Regions from separate parts of the Homo sapiens genome. Here all the other regions are reported to be linked to region 1. Evidence: microRNA targets listed by miRTarBase, many of them from high-throughput screens and not tested one by one. Region 1 holds a microRNA gene; each other region holds the end of a gene's coding sequence. Distances are between the middles of the regions.
Evidence for each region. The annotated mature microRNA hsa-miR-4433a-3p reads ACAGGAGUGGGGGUGGGACAU and lies in region 1 at 1,800-1,820, opposite strand. An mRNA with a match to its seed (bases 2 to 7 or 8) in the 3' UTR can be bound and repressed. Matches are read on the target gene's strand: a 7mer-m8 pairs with bases 2 to 8, a 7mer-A1 pairs with bases 2 to 7 and ends in A, and an 8mer does both.

Region 2: the mRNA of PPP1R1C is a reported target of hsa-miR-4433a-3p. The part of its 3' UTR that is shown has no 7-base or 8-base seed match.
Region 3: miRTarBase lists SAV1 as a target of hsa-miR-4433a-3p. Seed matches in the 3' UTR shown: 7mer-m8 at 2,927-2,933.
Region 4: miRTarBase lists APOLD1 as a target of hsa-miR-4433a-3p. Seed matches in the 3' UTR shown: 7mer-m8 at 3,427-3,433, 7mer-A1 at 2,711-2,717, 7mer-m8 at 1,278-1,284, 7mer-A1 at 1,245-1,251 and 7mer-m8 at 1,142-1,148.

What each region holds. Positions count from the first base shown.
Region 1 is chr2:64,338,230-64,342,628 of GRCh38, reverse strand. It overlaps MIR4433A (microRNA 4433a), which reads right to left and starts at 1,870; the gene lies at 1,790-1,870. It overlaps MIR4433B (microRNA 4433b), which reads left to right and starts at 1,781; the gene lies at 1,781-1,882. It overlaps LOC105374768 (a long non-coding RNA gene), which reads left to right and starts at 920. Exons shown (of 3, transcript NR_189739.1): 1 at 920-1,094; 2 at 4,272-4,399.
Region 2 is chr2:182,117,038-182,121,037 of GRCh38, forward strand. PPP1R1C (protein phosphatase 1 regulatory inhibitor subunit 1C) reads left to right here. Exons shown (of 5, transcript NM_001080545.3): 5 at 170-719. The coding sequence ends at 258. Among named protein-coding and RNA genes, the nearest start is that of PPP1R1C, 130 kb to the left of the region's middle.
Region 3 is chr14:50,631,700-50,635,699 of GRCh38, forward strand. SAV1 (salvador family WW domain containing protein 1) reads right to left here. Exons shown (of 5, transcript NM_021818.4): 5 at 1,881-3,685. The coding sequence ends at 3,484. It overlaps ATL1 (atlastin GTPase 1), which reads left to right. Exons shown (of 14, transcript NM_015915.5): 14 at 530-1,346. The coding sequence ends at 640. Among named protein-coding and RNA genes, the nearest start is that of SAV1, 35 kb to the right of the region's middle.
Region 4 is chr12:12,787,375-12,791,374 of GRCh38, reverse strand. It overlaps APOLD1 (apolipoprotein L domain containing 1), which reads right to left. Exons shown (of 2, transcript NM_030817.3): 2 at 1-4,000. The coding sequence ends at 3,723. Among named protein-coding and RNA genes, the nearest start is that of APOLD1, 3.7 kb to the right of the region's middle.

The DNA of each region.
Region 1 (4,399 bases):
GGTAAAGATGAGAGGGGGAAAAATACCAGGCAGAGGAAGCACTATGTCCTCTGTGGCAGAAAGGATCATGGCAGGCATATTAGTCAGGACCCAGCCAGGAAAGCAAAACCCACTCTAGGTGATTTGATAGAGGGAATTTCATACGGGGAGTCAGAGGAGTTGAAAGAGCTCCCAGGGGAACCCTGAGAGTAGCAACTCCAGGAAGCTGGGACTACTGTATTTGTTTGCTAGGGCTGCAGTAACAAAGTGCCACAGACTGGGTGGCTTCACACAGAAAGTTATTGTCTCAGAGTTCTGAAGGCTGGAAGTCCAAAATCAAGGTGTCAGAAGGGGTAGTTCCTTTTGAGGCCTATGAGGGAAGGATCTGTTCCACGCCTCTTTCCTTGACTTGTAGATGACCATTTTCACCTATGTCTCTTCACATCGTCTTCCCTCTGTGTGTGTCTATCTCTGTCCAAACTTCCCCTTTTTATAAGGACAACATTCATATTGGATTAGGGTCCACCCTAATGACCTCACTTTAATTCGGCTACTCTATAAAGACCACAACCCTAAATAAGGTCACACTCTAAAGTACTGGGGGTTAGAACTTCAACACATGAACTTGCAGGGGAGACACAATTCAACCCATAGCACCACCCTGGAAGCTGGAGAACAAGGAAAGAAACAGTTTCTGGAGCCTAAGACAAGATAAGCTGGAACAAAGAGGGCCTGCCAAGATGGGTAGCAGGGATCACACAGAGATGGCTGTGTAGTGGGAACTGCAGCCACAGAAGAGACTCCTGAGAAAGAGAAGCAGGAGAAGTACTCTGGCTTCTCCTTCCTTCACCTCCAATATCTTTTGCCCTCCCTCACTCCCCATTGGCTGAACTTTACTGGAAGGCAGTTGGCTCTGGAGCCTGGAACAGCCCCCAGTGACACAGAGCAGATCGGGGGACCACGGGATGGGAAGGGTGGACATGGCTCTGACAGCAACAATGTAACACCCATGCAACGAGTCTGCGAGGCCGAATGGAAGCCAGCTGGCTGCAGGGGAGAGAGCAAGAGAGTCTGGCAGAAGGTGCACCTGGAGAAGGAAGTAGAGGCCAGGCCAGGTAGGAGTTTGGTCTGCATGCTAAGAGCCATAGAAATATCCAAAGGTTTTTAATAGAGCTGGGGGAGAGGCGGTGATGTGATCAGAGATGTGTTTTGAAAAGACCTATCTGGCTATGAAGTGGAGAGTGGGTTGAGGATAGTGGGGCAGATCAGTTAGAAGGCTACGCCTAAGAGAAAGCCTGTTTTACAAAAAGAGGGAGCTCCTGCTGCCCCTCTCTTTCCCTGGAGTTTTCATACCCTCCACGTGTACTAGACATGTGTATCTGCCAGTCAAAGCCACCCCTCCCCTGGTGCAGAGGCCCGCTCCAAGCTCTCATTGCCCAGTGTCCTTTTTCTAGATCCTCTCCTGGTTCACTTCCTTTCTCTCTGGGCAGTCCTTCCCATGCTGCAACACTGATTCTTCTTTTGTCACCCACCTGCTGCAAGGGGGGCCCTTGTCACCCATCTCACCCATCACTCTGGCTTAATGGTGCTGACTGAGTCCACGGCTTTGGTGGCCACCCATATGTTGCTGCTGCTTCTCAGATCTGTATTTCCAGACATGATTTCTCTCGTGAGAAAAATCAGCCTGCCAGATATCTCCACTGGAATGTCCAAAGGAATTGGAATCATGAGCTCAGCATGTCTAAAACTGAACACATTATCTTCCCCTCGCACGTGGACCCCTGTAACCTGCCCTTCATCCTGTGTTCCCTATCCTCCTTATGTCCCACCCCCACTCCTGTTTGAATATTTCACCAGAAACAGGAGTGGGGGGTGGGACGTAAGGAGGATGGGGGAAAGAACATCATCCTAAACTATTCCCTCTTACTCCCCCACATCCCATTGCTGTCCAAGTCCTGTTGGCTCTGTCCTAGATATCTGTCAAAATCCACTTTTCCTGCTACTTCCCTAGCCCAGGTCCTCATTTTTATGTGGGTTCATGCAGTGGTCTCCTAGCTGGCTTCCTGCCTCAAGCCTTGCCCTGGCCGGTCCACTTTTCCTACAATCAAAGTGACATCTACCAGTGTAAATAGATCATGTCCTTTCTCTGCTTAAAATCCCTTCAGTGATTTCTTATCGTCCTCAAGTCAAGTCTGATTACTATCTCTGCACAGTGCCCAGCCCACAATAAATGATTGGTGATTAAATGAATAAATGACAAACCAATATAGAAAAATTGCTAAGTGTGGAAATGAAGAAAAGATGCCATTTTTTTTCCCCTGGAAGTCTTTCCGACTGTCCAAGACTCAATCTGGATCTATCCTTGGGTGTGTTTGTATTGTACTTCTCACACTATACTAAACCCATCTACTTACCTGTCTGTTTCCTACTGGAATGTTCCTTGGTTGCTACTATATCTCTTAGCACAGCTCCTGGAAGAAAGTAAATGCTCAAAAAATATTTGATGAATGAATGAATGATAAGGAGAGCTCTGGGCTGGGGCTGACTATGAAATGCTTATTAGGAGCAGAGTGTGTCTGTCCTGGTTCCAAAGCACTGGGGGAACCAGGATGGGTAGAGAGGCTGAAGGCAAGCCCTTTAGGGGAAGGATAGCAGTGACGAAGGCTGAAAGATCAACAGCAATACATTTTTCTCAGGAGACTTCTTTGGGGCAGTGTTTTCTAAGCTGGGTTCCAGGGACCACTGGTCTTGCGAGATGCTCTATCTAGGGTTCTATATCAAATCAGCATGTAGAAACATGCAGCCCATACCCCTTGTGTACATCAGCATCTCAAAGAGTCTGAGAAGTCCTGCAGTTGAAAAACCAACACTTTAACCCTTTTAACTCAGTATTTCCTGAACTTATTCCATAAGTTTGAATATACAAAAATAAAGTTTTTTGCTTAATACTCAGCAACACCCCCTTCCACAAGATATACTGGAATAAATAGTGTTTGGTGGTCATGAGTATTTTAGGAAAAGGGCAGGAGAAGCTTGAATTTCCCCCAGTGTGCCTTGGGTGAGCACTGTGGTTATAGCCACTTGATGAGAACAGTCAGAGGAAGGCTGCTCTGGGCCATCAAGTGCAGACTGTATAGGACAGGAGAAGGGTGGGAACAGAGACACCCCTGAAGGGGTTGTAGATTCAGGGGGAAAGGTGATGGATGGCCTGGACAAAGATTGTGGTGGAAACAAAATCAATGGGCACACGATTTTCCCTTCTTGGAAGAACCTCTGAAAGGAGAAGCCCTATTCACCCCGACTGCCTGGCTTAGGCCACACCCCTAGAAATGCAGCTACAACCAGGGCAAACCATCAACAGCATCTTCTCAGCACCCATGCGATCCCAAGTAGGCATCCGAGGACATGCAAAAGAGAAGCATGTGTCCTTTTGTGGTCAAAGTCTGTTTTCTCTCTTGGAGCAGGTATGCTTCTGATGGTGCTGCAAGCAGCAGGGGGTAAGGCTGCAAGCTGGGCTAAAAACAGCCCCACCCCCTCTAGCCACAATCAGCTGTGGGATAAAAGCCCCTAAAGACCAAGACTGTACTCATGTCTGACTCATCTCTGCTTCCAGCTCTCAGCTAAACCTGCCCAGAGGAGAGCATGGCAGACAGGAGGGCGCTTGCTCAGAAGCCTCTAGGTTAGAGGTAAACAGGACTAAGGTTAATAAAGAAATTCATAATGAGGGTATAGCAACTGTACCCCCACCCCATCACCAGATGATGACCTGGTCTGAGAGAGGAAACATGCAGGTGGGTCACATAACTCAATGTAAAGCAGGTAGCGCACCATGCCTGCATTTAAGGGCTCAGCAGGTGTTACTTATTACTATTATTTACTCCTATGCAAGTAACTGAAAAAAAATTACTTCATTTAAGATCTTTAGCAAATACTTTTGGTGTTAACTCTTTCAGGGACACTTCTTTTTTAAAAATTTATTTTTTAATATAAATGGGACAGGGTCTAGCTATGTTGCCTAGGCTGGTCTCGAACTCCTAGGCTCAAGGGGTCCTCCACCCTCAGCCTCCCAAAGTGCTGGGATTACAGGCACGAGCCACTGCATCTGGCCTGAGGGACACTGCTAACGCAGTACCTGGTGCTTTTCTGGCCCCTAAGCCCATGGGCTTAGGAAAAAATTAAGTCAGTGCCAAAGAGGACCCCAAACCCCACCATTGTTTCACAGACAGTGTTCAGTATGGCCTGTACCTCAGGGTAATCACTTCATTTTGCTCTTTTCTCTCCAATGCTCTCAGTGTGGAGGGAACTGGGAGGACCTGTCTGACCACAAACAACCCACCTGAGGAGGCCCTGCTGCTCCCGGAGGGTGCTCCTGCCAGAGTTCTCCTAGTTCCTTGCAAGGAGCCCTGGAAAAACAATCCCA
Region 2 (4,000 bases), 120 Mb from region 1:
CTCAGTGAATTAAAAGGTTTATATAGGATTACATTGTTAAGATTCTTGGAGAAAAACATATAAACACCAAATGAAAACTTTGCACTCTTTTCTTTATCTTTTGCAGCAAAGCGGTTAATATTCCAGAAATGAAAATCATTTAAATTTTGCATAATTTTTATAATTTCAGGGGTTAAGCATCTGAAAGGCCAGAATGAATCAGCATTCCCTGAAGAAGAAGAAGGCACCAATGAAAGAGAGGAGCAGCGGGACCATTAATTACTGGTCTGCAGCAAGAAGGCTTCTTGGAAATAACTGAACTATTAACTTTTCTGAGTATACCATGGAATTCCACTGCTTGACTTCCAGAAGCATCCTCCATCTCTGCACCCCACACTCATACAGTAGCTATGCACATCCTGGAAGTCTCCTTGACTGAACTTTAGAACTAAGTACACATTGTTCCACATCACTTATAATTAAAGAATAAGCATTTATTTTACAGTGATTCTTCTTTTTAACTATGTAAAAATTTGCATACATGTGACTGTTCTAACTTTAATACTGCCAGAGCTTAATCCTTGATGTCCTACTGATAAGGTTTGCATTCTAACAACACATGTAAATAACATCACTTTAAGAGTAAAAAATAAATAGTAAACACATTTAGACATGAGTGTGTGTGTGTGTGTGTGTGGGTTTAGCTTAAAGAGAAATATCTAATAAAGCTTTTAGCTTGAGATTTGCATTGATCATATTTCTGTATTCAGAACAGAACACAATGTTCATTTTTAAATGATGAAGAAATGCCAGTTTTCTTGATTCAATACACCACAATATTAGATACTAAACATCTTTTTCCCACCAACAACACATTAATGGTTGATTATACAACTACAGAATTCTCTTCATTTTCTAAGCTGCAAGATATATATTTCCCAGCATTTTCTCTAGTTATTAAGAAAGAAGAATGATAAATCCAAAAATCTATGCCAAATCTTCCTACCTCCTCTTTTAGCTATTACTTGAAATTTGGGCCATCTATTTCCTATTGCATTTTGATAAATAATATAGCAGTTTATAAATCTTCCATATCATAAAATAAGAAATTCCATTAATTCATTCATATAGTCATTTATTCATTAATTAAACAAATATCTTTTATGAGCTTATCCCTAGGAAGGTACTATGCTGCGAATTATAGAAATAAAAGAAAGATACTTTTACCCCTATAGAACTGGCAGAAAAGATAAAGCATTAGCATAAAGCAAGATTTTATATGACAGTGTATATTTATTGAATATGGCTTTTTCATAATTTAAAATTCTGGGCATTTTGAACAATTTTAATTATACATTATTTGTGAAGGCAAAGTATCTAAACTACAAAATTTAGGGGGAATGGAAGAATACTCAGTTTGGTCCTTTATTAATAATATTAATGAAATTCAAATGTATCATGGATAAAAAATAAAAAGATTTCTCAAAAGTCAGTAAAGGACAAATGAAGGCAGGAAGAAAAAATCAAATGTGTAATCCACTGTGGGATCTTAATATCAAGATTCAAATATGTAAAATGATTGCTTTTAATTTTGAATATGAGTTTTGTAATGTAGAAGTTAAGAGAGTTTTATGGAGCTATAAAGAATGCAGTGAGTTGACAACCATTTTCCTTAGTATTTTTCCCCAAGAAAATAAGTGTGAAACCCGTTGATAAGCATACCACATGTATAAATGACTATTCTAGATTCCTCTCTCTCTCCTTCTGTTCCTTTCTTCTGTCTTTCTCCCTCCCTCCTTCTCTTCCTTTCTTTCTTCCTTTTCTCTCTCCCTCTCTCCCCTTCTCCCTCTCCTTCTCTGTCTTTCTCCACCCCTCCCATGACTTTTTCTTTTTTTTTTAAATTATACTTTAAGCTTTAGGGTACATGTGCACAACATGCAGGTTTGTTACATATGTATACATGTGCCGTGTTGGTGTGCTGCATGCATTAACTCGTCATTTAACATTAGGTATATCTCCTAATGCTATCCCTCCCCCCACCACCCACCCCACAGCAGGCCCCGGTGTGTGATGTTCCCCTTCCTGTGTCCGTGTGTTCTCACTGTTCAATTCCCACCTATGAGTGGGAACATGTGGTGTTTGGTTTTTTTGTCCTTGCAATAGTTTGCTGAGAATGATGGTTTCCAGCTTTATCCATGTCCCTACAAAGGACATGAACTCATCATTTTTTATGGCTGCATAGTATTCCATGGTGTATATGTGCCACATTTTCTTAATCCAGTCTATCATTGTTGGACATTTGGGTTGGTTCCAAGTCTTTGCTATTGTGAATAGTGCCGCAATAAACATACGTGTGCGTGTGTCTTTATAGCAGCATGATTTATAATCCTTTGGGTATATACCCAGTAATGGGATGGCTGGGTCAAATGGTATTTCTACTTCTAGATCCCTGAGGAATCACCACACTGACTTCCACAATGGTTGAACTAGTTTACAGTCCCAACAACAGTGTAAAAGTGTTCCTATTTCTCCACATCCTCTCCAGCACCTGTTGTTTCCTGACTTTTTAATGATCACCATTCCAACTGGTGTGAGATGGTATCTCATTGTGGTTTTGATTTGCATTTCTCTGATGGCCAGTGATGATGAGCATTTTTTCATGTGTCTGTTGGCTGCATAAATGTCTTCTTTTGAGAAGTGTCTGTTCATATCCTTCAGCCACTTTTTGATGGGGTTGTTTGTTTTTTTCTTGTAAGTTTTTTGGAGTTCACTATAGATTCTGGATATTAGCCCTTTGTCAGATGAGTAGATTGCAAAAATGTTCTCCCATTTTGTAGGTTGCCTGTTCACTCTGATGGTAGTTTCTTTCGCTGTGCAGAAGGTCTTTAGTTTAATTAGATCCCATTTGTCAGTTTTGGCTTTTGTTGCCATTGCTTTTGGTGTTTTAGGCATGAAGTCCTTGCCCATGCCTATGTCCTGAATGGTATTGCCTAGGTTTTCTTCTAGGGTTTTTATGGTTTTAGGTCTAACATTTAAGTCTTTAATCCATCTCGAATTAATTTTTGTATAAGGTGTAAGGAAGGGATCCAGTTTCAGCTTTCTACATATGGCTAGCCAGTTTTCCCAGCACCATTTATTAAATAAGGAATCCTTTCCCCATTTCTTGTTTTTGCCAGGTTTGTCAAAGATCAGATGGTTGTAGATATGCGGCATTATTTCTGAGGGCTCTGTTTTGTTCCATTGGTCTATATCTGTTTTGGCACCAGTACCATGCTGTTTTGGTTACTGTAGCCTTGTAGCTGAAGGAAGTAGAGACACAAAAAACCCTTCAAAAAATCATTGAATCCAGGAGCTGGTTTTTTGAAAAGATCAACAAAATTGATAGATCGCTAGCAAGACTAATAAAGAAGAAAAGAGAGAAGAATCAAATAGATGCAATAAAAAATGATAAAGGGGATATCACCACCGATCCCCTGACTTTTTCTTTGTTAAGCCAAAACTTTCTGGAATTTCTATACCACCTGCTATGACTCTTTGTTTATTTCTCAAGTTTCTCTCTACTTAAAACCTGATTAAGGCCCTTATTTATTTTAAGTGATTTTGAATTACTTGTGTTTGGAAAACATCTCAATGCCCCTTGAGAGTATTTGAGACACCCTGAGGTGCTAAACATAACATTGCCCTTCCCTTTCCTTGAACAGATGCTTTTAAAATGCTTTTTCAAAGGGACTCAGGCAAACAAAAAGAAACCAAAGCTTTTGCTGATTTTGTAACATCATTTAGGGTAATATACAGTATAGCTTCTGGATTTTTCTGTTCTGTTCTCCATTCCTAAAAAAAAACACAAAGAAATCAAAATTAAGAACATAAGTTTTCTTTGGGAAATGGTTTCTTCCATTCTGTTCTCCACTCTCAAAACACAGAGAGAATTCAATTAAAAGCTTAAGTTTTCTTTGAGAAATATGTTGACTTTCTCAGAAATTTGAAGGAAACCAGTTGAGATAATGGCTTTTCACTTTAC
Region 3 (4,000 bases), not on the chromosome of region 1:
ACAAGGCAAGAGCGTGTAAAGTGAAGGATCCTACTGTGCTGGGGGAAGGACACCATATGTGCTTAGCTGCATGACTGTATCAGTAAATGATGGAGAATAAAATTGGCCCCACTCAGGAAAACACTGGAAGCCCAGAAAGCAAGTAGCCTAGCTATGCATAATAGTTACTGCCAATCAGAAGTTATGAGGTCTTACAATTCATCTAAAACTGCTAATATTCACAATTTGAATTTTCAGCACACCCCTGGGGCAAAGTAGAAGCTCACTGCTCCAAGAGGTATGCAAGGTAAAAGGAAACACAGTTTGAGAATAAAACATTCACCACACAGGTCAACACACAAAAGTGTTAATGCACACATTGAGGAGTTGAAAATACTTTTGAATTTTAAGATAATAATTTATATATCGATTAAAAAAGATTTCAAATTCAACATGCTAAATTTTATACAGTACGATAAACTAAAAAGGAAAAAATTTTACATCTGTGTGTTTAATAAAATGTTTTATAATTTTGATGCTTTTATTCTAGGCTTTGTACAAGCTTTACAGTGCAGCAGCAACCCACAGACATCTGTATCATCAAGCTTTCCCTACACCAAAGTCGGAATCTACTGAACAATCAGAAAAGAAAAAAATGTAATGCAAATTTTAAGAAATACAGGTGCATGACCAATTGTCAATTAAATATTCAGTTTTATGTCTCCATGCAAACATTCAAAGTGCTTCCATCAGAACGGAGTAAAATACTAAACACCTCTGAAGACTGCAAACTGGATTAGTTCTTTTACTTCAGTGTTTAATAAGCAGATGTATGTATGCATGGTTATACTATTTTGTTAACATGTACAATTTCCTGATTTTTCTTCAAAAATGCTGTTATAAAGTATTTGTCTATTTATGATAACAGTACACGTGTTCTGCTTGAATTTACTAAATTCTACTACTGGGTTATAATTAAATCATGTGATATTCCACGTTTGGATATGCTCATTTAATTTCTACAGAAAAAATTTTAAATTATTTCACATTAGCCATTTGTTAAAACACAGCATCATAACTCAGCAGGCTGGATTTAATCTGTATCATCTTATATATATCACAATCTTATTTTTAAGCACATTTTAGAGTTCCTTAGTTGCTTTATCAAAAACCAGATATTGCTTTTACATGGTTTAATAGAATATAAACCTCTTGATAAAAAATGCACAAAAAATCACTTTGTATATGTGAGTTTCACTGCATTGTATATTTTTTCATTTGGTACACAAAGAATGTATTCTTCATAGGTTTATTCTTTTAATATGTGAACTATTATTAAAGTTTACTCTGGTTCCTAAGATTAAAAACAAATGCTTACTGAATTTGAAAATGAGAGGTGCTGATATAGAATGATGAAGGTTTATCTCTTTTTTTAGACTCAAGATGCATTTTATTTAATGTTGACATCAGTACAAACTTAAGTTTCTATTTTACAAAACATGCTAATTCCTTTAGGTAACTTCTAGTTCTTAATGACTAAAATCTCTAGTGGAGTTTCACTGAACAGACTTCTTAGAGGAAGAAGGAAAGTGTGTTAATGAAAAAAGTAATACTTATCTAGGAGGTCCAAAACAGAGAAACTTCTAAAGACTGTCACAGAAATGGCTACACCATAATTAAGTAGCGATATAAAGTAAGAAGTGACAGGAAAGAACAATTAAGATAGAGGAGTGTGGGAGTTCATAAGATATATATACTGACATCTTAGAAAAGTCTGATCACAAGTTCAGCAAATTATCTTTTCCCAGTGATAAAATTCCACTAGCCACACTTTCATTTTTCAATACCCCTTTTCATTACCCCTTTCAATTATATTGATTCCTTTGTCTATGGCCTTTTGAACAGAAAAATGAAATACAGCACTATGTCTAAAACATGGACTCAAAAACCACGCGCTTAGTTTCCACAAAAATATATTTAATAAGCTTGTTATATAAAATCAAACACTTAACATTGTCAACATTTCTTCAGTTATTCAAACTCACTGATATCTAACTGGGAGTAGTTTGTATTCTGGAAGACTTCCTAAGCTAAAAGTATATTTACATATTTACAACACATGTAAATATAACTGAAGAACTACTTCAAATAATGTTGAAATTCACAGAATTCTAGAGATTTATAGTTATAGTTTAGAAGTATCACCAATTTGTTTGCAATCAAATGTACAGCACTAATTATGAAAAATGTTTTAACTATTAAACCAAAAGGGGAGAAAAACTGGGAGGGAAATATATGGTGTTAAAGTCCTGTGATAAATACTTAGAAAATTAAAAAGTAATAATATACATTCGATTTAATGACCAAAAATTTTTTTTGAATCCCTGGTTGTCATTTTTGGTAGCTTAACCCAGTCTGTCAGAAGGCAGTATGCTATGCTGTCAGGAACTCTCCACTGCCTCGTCAGAGCCATGCTAAATGCAGTAACAGCACTGGCTGAAAATAAGGAAGATGATGTTAGCAACTTTGAGTTTCACGCACCTTCCCAATACAGGCTAAGTATTCCTGCTTATATGTATTCCTGAAAGATTAAAAGGCCCGTCACCCATTCATACCAAAAAATACTTTCTCAACATGCTTTAAAAGGATTCCTTATTTTGTTTTTATTTTTTTATTTTTTATTTTTTGAGACAAGGTCTGGCTCTCTCTCTCTCAGGCTGCAGTGCAAGTGGTGCGATCTTGACCCTGCAACCTCTGCCTCTTGGGCTCAAGCCATCCTCTGACCTCAGCCTCCCAAGTAGCTGGGACTAGAGGCACACACCATCATACCCGGCTAATTTTTTTGTATTTTTTGTAGAGATGGGGCTTCACCATGTTGCCCAGGCTGGTCTTAAACTCGTGGACTCAAGCGGTCCACCCACCTCGGCCTCCCAAAATGCTGGGATTACAGGAGTGAGCCACCACGCCCAGCTGGGTTCCTTACTTTGGAGAGGGGAGACAAACATACATCATATATAAATATTTATCACAATAAGGTTCCAAATCCTATTTTATATTTCAACTACATCATGGTAATATTTAAACCATCCCTTTCCAGACAATATTTCACACTACAGCGGTAAACTTTTTTTTTAAAAAAATACCGCAGATTCTTTTTTTTTTTTAAAGAAGGTACTACTGCTGTAAGAAGTTAACAAGTAATAATTTCCTATTTAACATCTGTTCATAATGACATTTCCGCTGCGTTTTTTTCCATCAAGAATACCAAAACAGTTTCCTAATATACAGTATTTGAAAGTGTTTGCCATATTGGCTCTTAAAATGATAGACTAATTTTTCTCATTCAATAAAAGAAAATTTCTAATAACAAAATACATGTAAAGTTAGAATTTTATAATTTCCACAAAGGAAGCAGCATTTATTAACCAGAGTACTTGTTTGCAATTTTTTATCTGTGAAAATATTTTAAAGCTCTTACAAAACTTAAATTTTTAAAAAATCAGCTCAAAAATTTTTTCCATGTTGTTGGGCATACCACTGCTGTCTCTGCTTTCGGTTTTCCAACTCTGTAAGAAGGGCTTGTCTGTATGCTTCATACATTTTAACAATCTGCTCCAATTCTTTCATGAAGAGCAACTTTAGCATTCCCTGGTATGTATCCAGGTCAGCCAGCTGGAAGAGTTCCCACTTCAGAATGTGGTCATATCTGTTTTAAAACACAATCATATATATGTTCACAACACATACATAAACATGTATTTCTAGCAAGAAACTAGTCTGTTTTTTAAAATGTCAACTTTATTTATAACTAAACAAACCATAAGTTTTAATTAAAAATAACTGGGCACAGTGGTGGCGCCTATTATAGTCCCAGCTACTTGGGAGGCTGAGGTGGGAGGCTGAGGTGGGAGGACTGCTTGTGCCCAAGAGTTTGAGGCCAGCCTGGGCAACATAGCAAGACCCTGTTTCTAAAAATAAATAAATCAGTTTTTTAAAAATCTGAGTTATTAACTGCTATTTA
Region 4 (4,000 bases), not on the chromosome of region 1:
TATCCCCATTTATCTCTGCACGATGTCTTTATCTCAGTGTCTCAATTCACACTAAAATATTGAATGAGAAATACACCACGTTGGCTGATTGCTTGACATGTCTGATTTAGGGAGACTTCTACAACCACTCCTCTCTTTTTTCTCCCAGTAAATACTTTTGACTTTGACACCTACCATATTGGAAATGACAGGTGCCCGAGGGCAAGTGCATCAAAGCAGTTAGGATTCGAATGCTTGCTAAGGATTATTTTTTTAATGGAGCAGTTCTATTGAATCCTGAAAATGCAGAACCCAGTGAATCTCCTTTATTGTGAAACAGAACAATTCAAATGATTGCAAGCCCCAGAACCTAACAGAGAAGCACTTAAACATTTAGAACAAACATACCTATTTTTCAAACTTTGGCATTTTTGTGAAGTACACTTATCATCTAAATACCTCTCTCCCGTCTTCTCTTTTACAACATACCATTTCAACCTGTTTGTTTAAAGAATGAAGGCCTTAAGGAAAAGCCTTATTCACATCCCCGTAAAAGAAAGAAATAAATATTTGTTTCTAGAATCAATCTAACTGAACTTGACTAAATCTTGATAGAGGCTCCAATCTTACTCACACATAAGGCGATGGATGATCTTTTGTTGTCAACAAATTCTCATTAAGATAGCTAAACAGTTAATTATAATTATTCAAATGTATTTCTTGAGTTCCTACTATGTGCAAAGTATCGTTCCAAAGTAGACACTCTTCCTTAGAAATAAAGTGGGCCACTGAAATCATAACTTCAAAAGTCTAGAACTTTTGATACACCCAAAATATGAGAGGAAAAGTTTGCTGCTGCTGTTACTGTTGCTGCTTCCAAAAGTGCCCAGTTTAATTCTAGGGAATAGCTTAGGCATTGGAAGAATATAATTTAAACTTAAGCATTAATAAAAGATGGAGTTAGGGAATGGTTGTACCTTTATGCCATAACACAACTAATAATGTGAAGTACATTCTAAAATGATTTAAAATGATTGTGAAACAAAACAATTCATCTAAAATGAATTGTTTGATCTAAAATGCTAGCATCTGGCCAGGCGAGGTGGCTCATGCCTGTAATCCCAGCACTTTGGGAAGCCAAGGTGGGCGGATCACATAAGGCCAGGAGTTCAAGACCAGCCTGGCCAACATGGCGAAACCCTGTCTCTACTAAAAATACAAAAAATTAGCCGGGTGTGCTGGTGCACATCTGTAATCCCAGCTACTCAGGAGGCTGAGGCAGAAGAATTGCTTGAACCCAGGAGTCGGAGGTTGCAGTGAGCCGAGATCAAACCACTGCAACTCCAGCCTAGGTGACAGAGTGAGACTCTGTCTCAAAAAAAAAAAAAAAATGCTAGCATCTGGGTGAAACAGTCTAGGAGATGACACCAGCTTGAAAAGAAACCAATATAAATTTCAAAATAAACCAGCATACAGACCAATTGCAATTTATAGAAAAAATAAAAATGTAGAAACATCACCTCCTCTCCCCGACCCCAGTACTGAAATTATACTTCCTCAGACATACTGCCCCATCACTGGGAAGGGTGCGGACAGATTGGGTACATTTATAGAATATTAAATAATTAAGTAACAGAGGCACCGTTTTTGCATGTATGGTCCCAAAGACTTTTCAACTTATTTTTCAACATTACAGTTGTTAAGAATGGAAATTGAAGGAATTGTACATATTTTCACTGACAGTTTCTTACAGACCCCAAAGTGAAAATGCAACACATCACCACCATAAGACAAGCGATTTTGTCTGTCACCCAGAAGACATAACTTGATAGGACATCAGGCTTGCAAGTTCTAAGTGCTTCCTTCACATACCTCTAAACTTTTTATCTTTCCTGAACTAAATAGATTCCTTTTCCAGGTCAAGTGATACCTTCTGGCAAAATACCTTCAGGATAAATATGCTTCCTCAGTTATATATCCCACAATGCAAGCTTCCATTACAAGCTTAAACTCAGCTCCTGGTCTTGCCATTCAAGACTCTCCACACTTACTTCAAAGGATCACTTAAAACACTAGAGAAAAAGAATCTCCCTGAAGGAGAGAGACAATCAAGGAAAGCAATGCTATTTCCAGCTCATGCCCTGCCTTAGAAACTCAAACTTAATCTCATCTCTTGCAAAGAGCCTCAGCAGTCTCCCATTTAGAAACTTGCTCTTATTATTTTCTAAATGTGGTGATTAAATAAAATTAAATGCAAACACTAAACAATAATTAAAAATTAAATTACAAACTTAAAATAAATAAAAAATACATGGACTGGCACTTTTCAGAGAAGGTAATAATAGACAAAGGTCAGTTTCAGGAACTTCATATTCCTTTCTGTACCAGTTTCTACAACAGGCGGGAAACACTGCCCCCTAATGGGCTTTTAGTGTTACATCCCTTGTTCATACGGTGAGACACTGCCCCAGGGTGCACGTACGCGTGCTCTCTCTCTCTCTCTCTCATTTTGGCTTCTGGGACACAGTCTGTCCTTGGTCATCTGTGAACGACTCTGAAGACCATGGAGTCCCTAGAGAAGCCGTGAGACTTCGTGAAAGCTCATCAAGGGGATTAGAAGTTAGCATTTGTTGCAGTGATTTTCAAACCTTAGTGTGCCGCAGAACCACCCAGAGAAATTGTTTAAACTCAGGTTGCTGGGCCCCACAGCCAGAGTTTCTGATTCCATAAATCAGGAGGGTTGTGTCCAAGAATTTGCCTTTCTAACAAGTTCCTGGGTGATGTTAATTTGCCATTCCAGGGACTACACTATATGAGCCAGCACCATCATGCTAGGCACTTTGGCTCATTTAATATCTCACAACAGGGTGAGATTTTATCATCTTTGTTTTACACAGTCTCAGAGAGATTAGGTGGCTACACTCACACAGTAGTGACAAAGCCTGTCTCAAGCCCAGGACTGTCTAACTCAAAACCCATCACTCTCTTCTGAACACAATGATGTCGGGAAATGAAGTTGGCAGTCGCTCCATCTATCTGGCCCTCAGCTTCATGTGAGGGAGCAGGACTTAGATGACGGCTTCACGGGCTTCCCCTCTGAGTACTTGGAGGACTGGATTGGGAGCCACTCAGGAAAGGCCTACTTCATACCCAGGCCGCATCTGGGAGTAAGTAAGCTGAGGGGAAAGGGAAGAGGAGGAGATATCAGCACCAGGGTCCTCTCTGGGTTCTGAACCATCCTACAACGTTCAGAGAAGGGCTGATTTGCTCTGGATTCTGGAGTTCTTTGTATCAGAAATTCTGGAATAGAGGCAAACGCCTTCCTCACGCACATTTTGAGGACTTCAAAGACTAGTAGGACTTGGAGAGGACCCAGAGGATGGCACTCTCTCCAGTCTCAGGCCAAGCCACCAGGGCAGGGTCAGGGACCCCGAAATAACTTTAAAACAGGAGTGCCTGCCCAGCTGTGTTTAGACAGAAAGTTTTTGATAAAGGAAAAAGAGTTTTTGGGTCACATTTTTCCACTAGGAAGACTGAAAAGTCCGTAGCACTCAAGCCCAGGCAGATGTCACAGTGATGGGAAAAGAAGGGCTTTGGGGACCTGCCCACTTCAAAAACAGTTTTTCTCATCCTTTGCCTTCGGCTCCTAACCCAGCTTGGTGTTTTCCTAAGGGAGCTACAAATTCTGGAGCATCCCATGAGGATGATTTGCTGGCCTCGGTCATTAGGGGGAAAGGATGTTCTCAGAAAAACAGCCCTGCACGCTGGTCAGCAGAGATCTTGAGGTCGTGGCCACGACTGGACTTGGTGCAGAGCTGAACCCGAGACTCCAGCTGCTCGCTGAGTTCGTCCAGAGCCCCGGTGCAGGACTCCAGGCTCTCGGCCAGTTTCTGAATCTTGGCCTTCAGCACGGCCTGGCTAACCTTGGTGTCCCCCTCCGCCCGCCTGGGGATGAGGAAGCCACGTGAGCCAAAGAAGACGATGAAGTAGACAGAATTGTACAGGGCGATGGAGGCGTTCC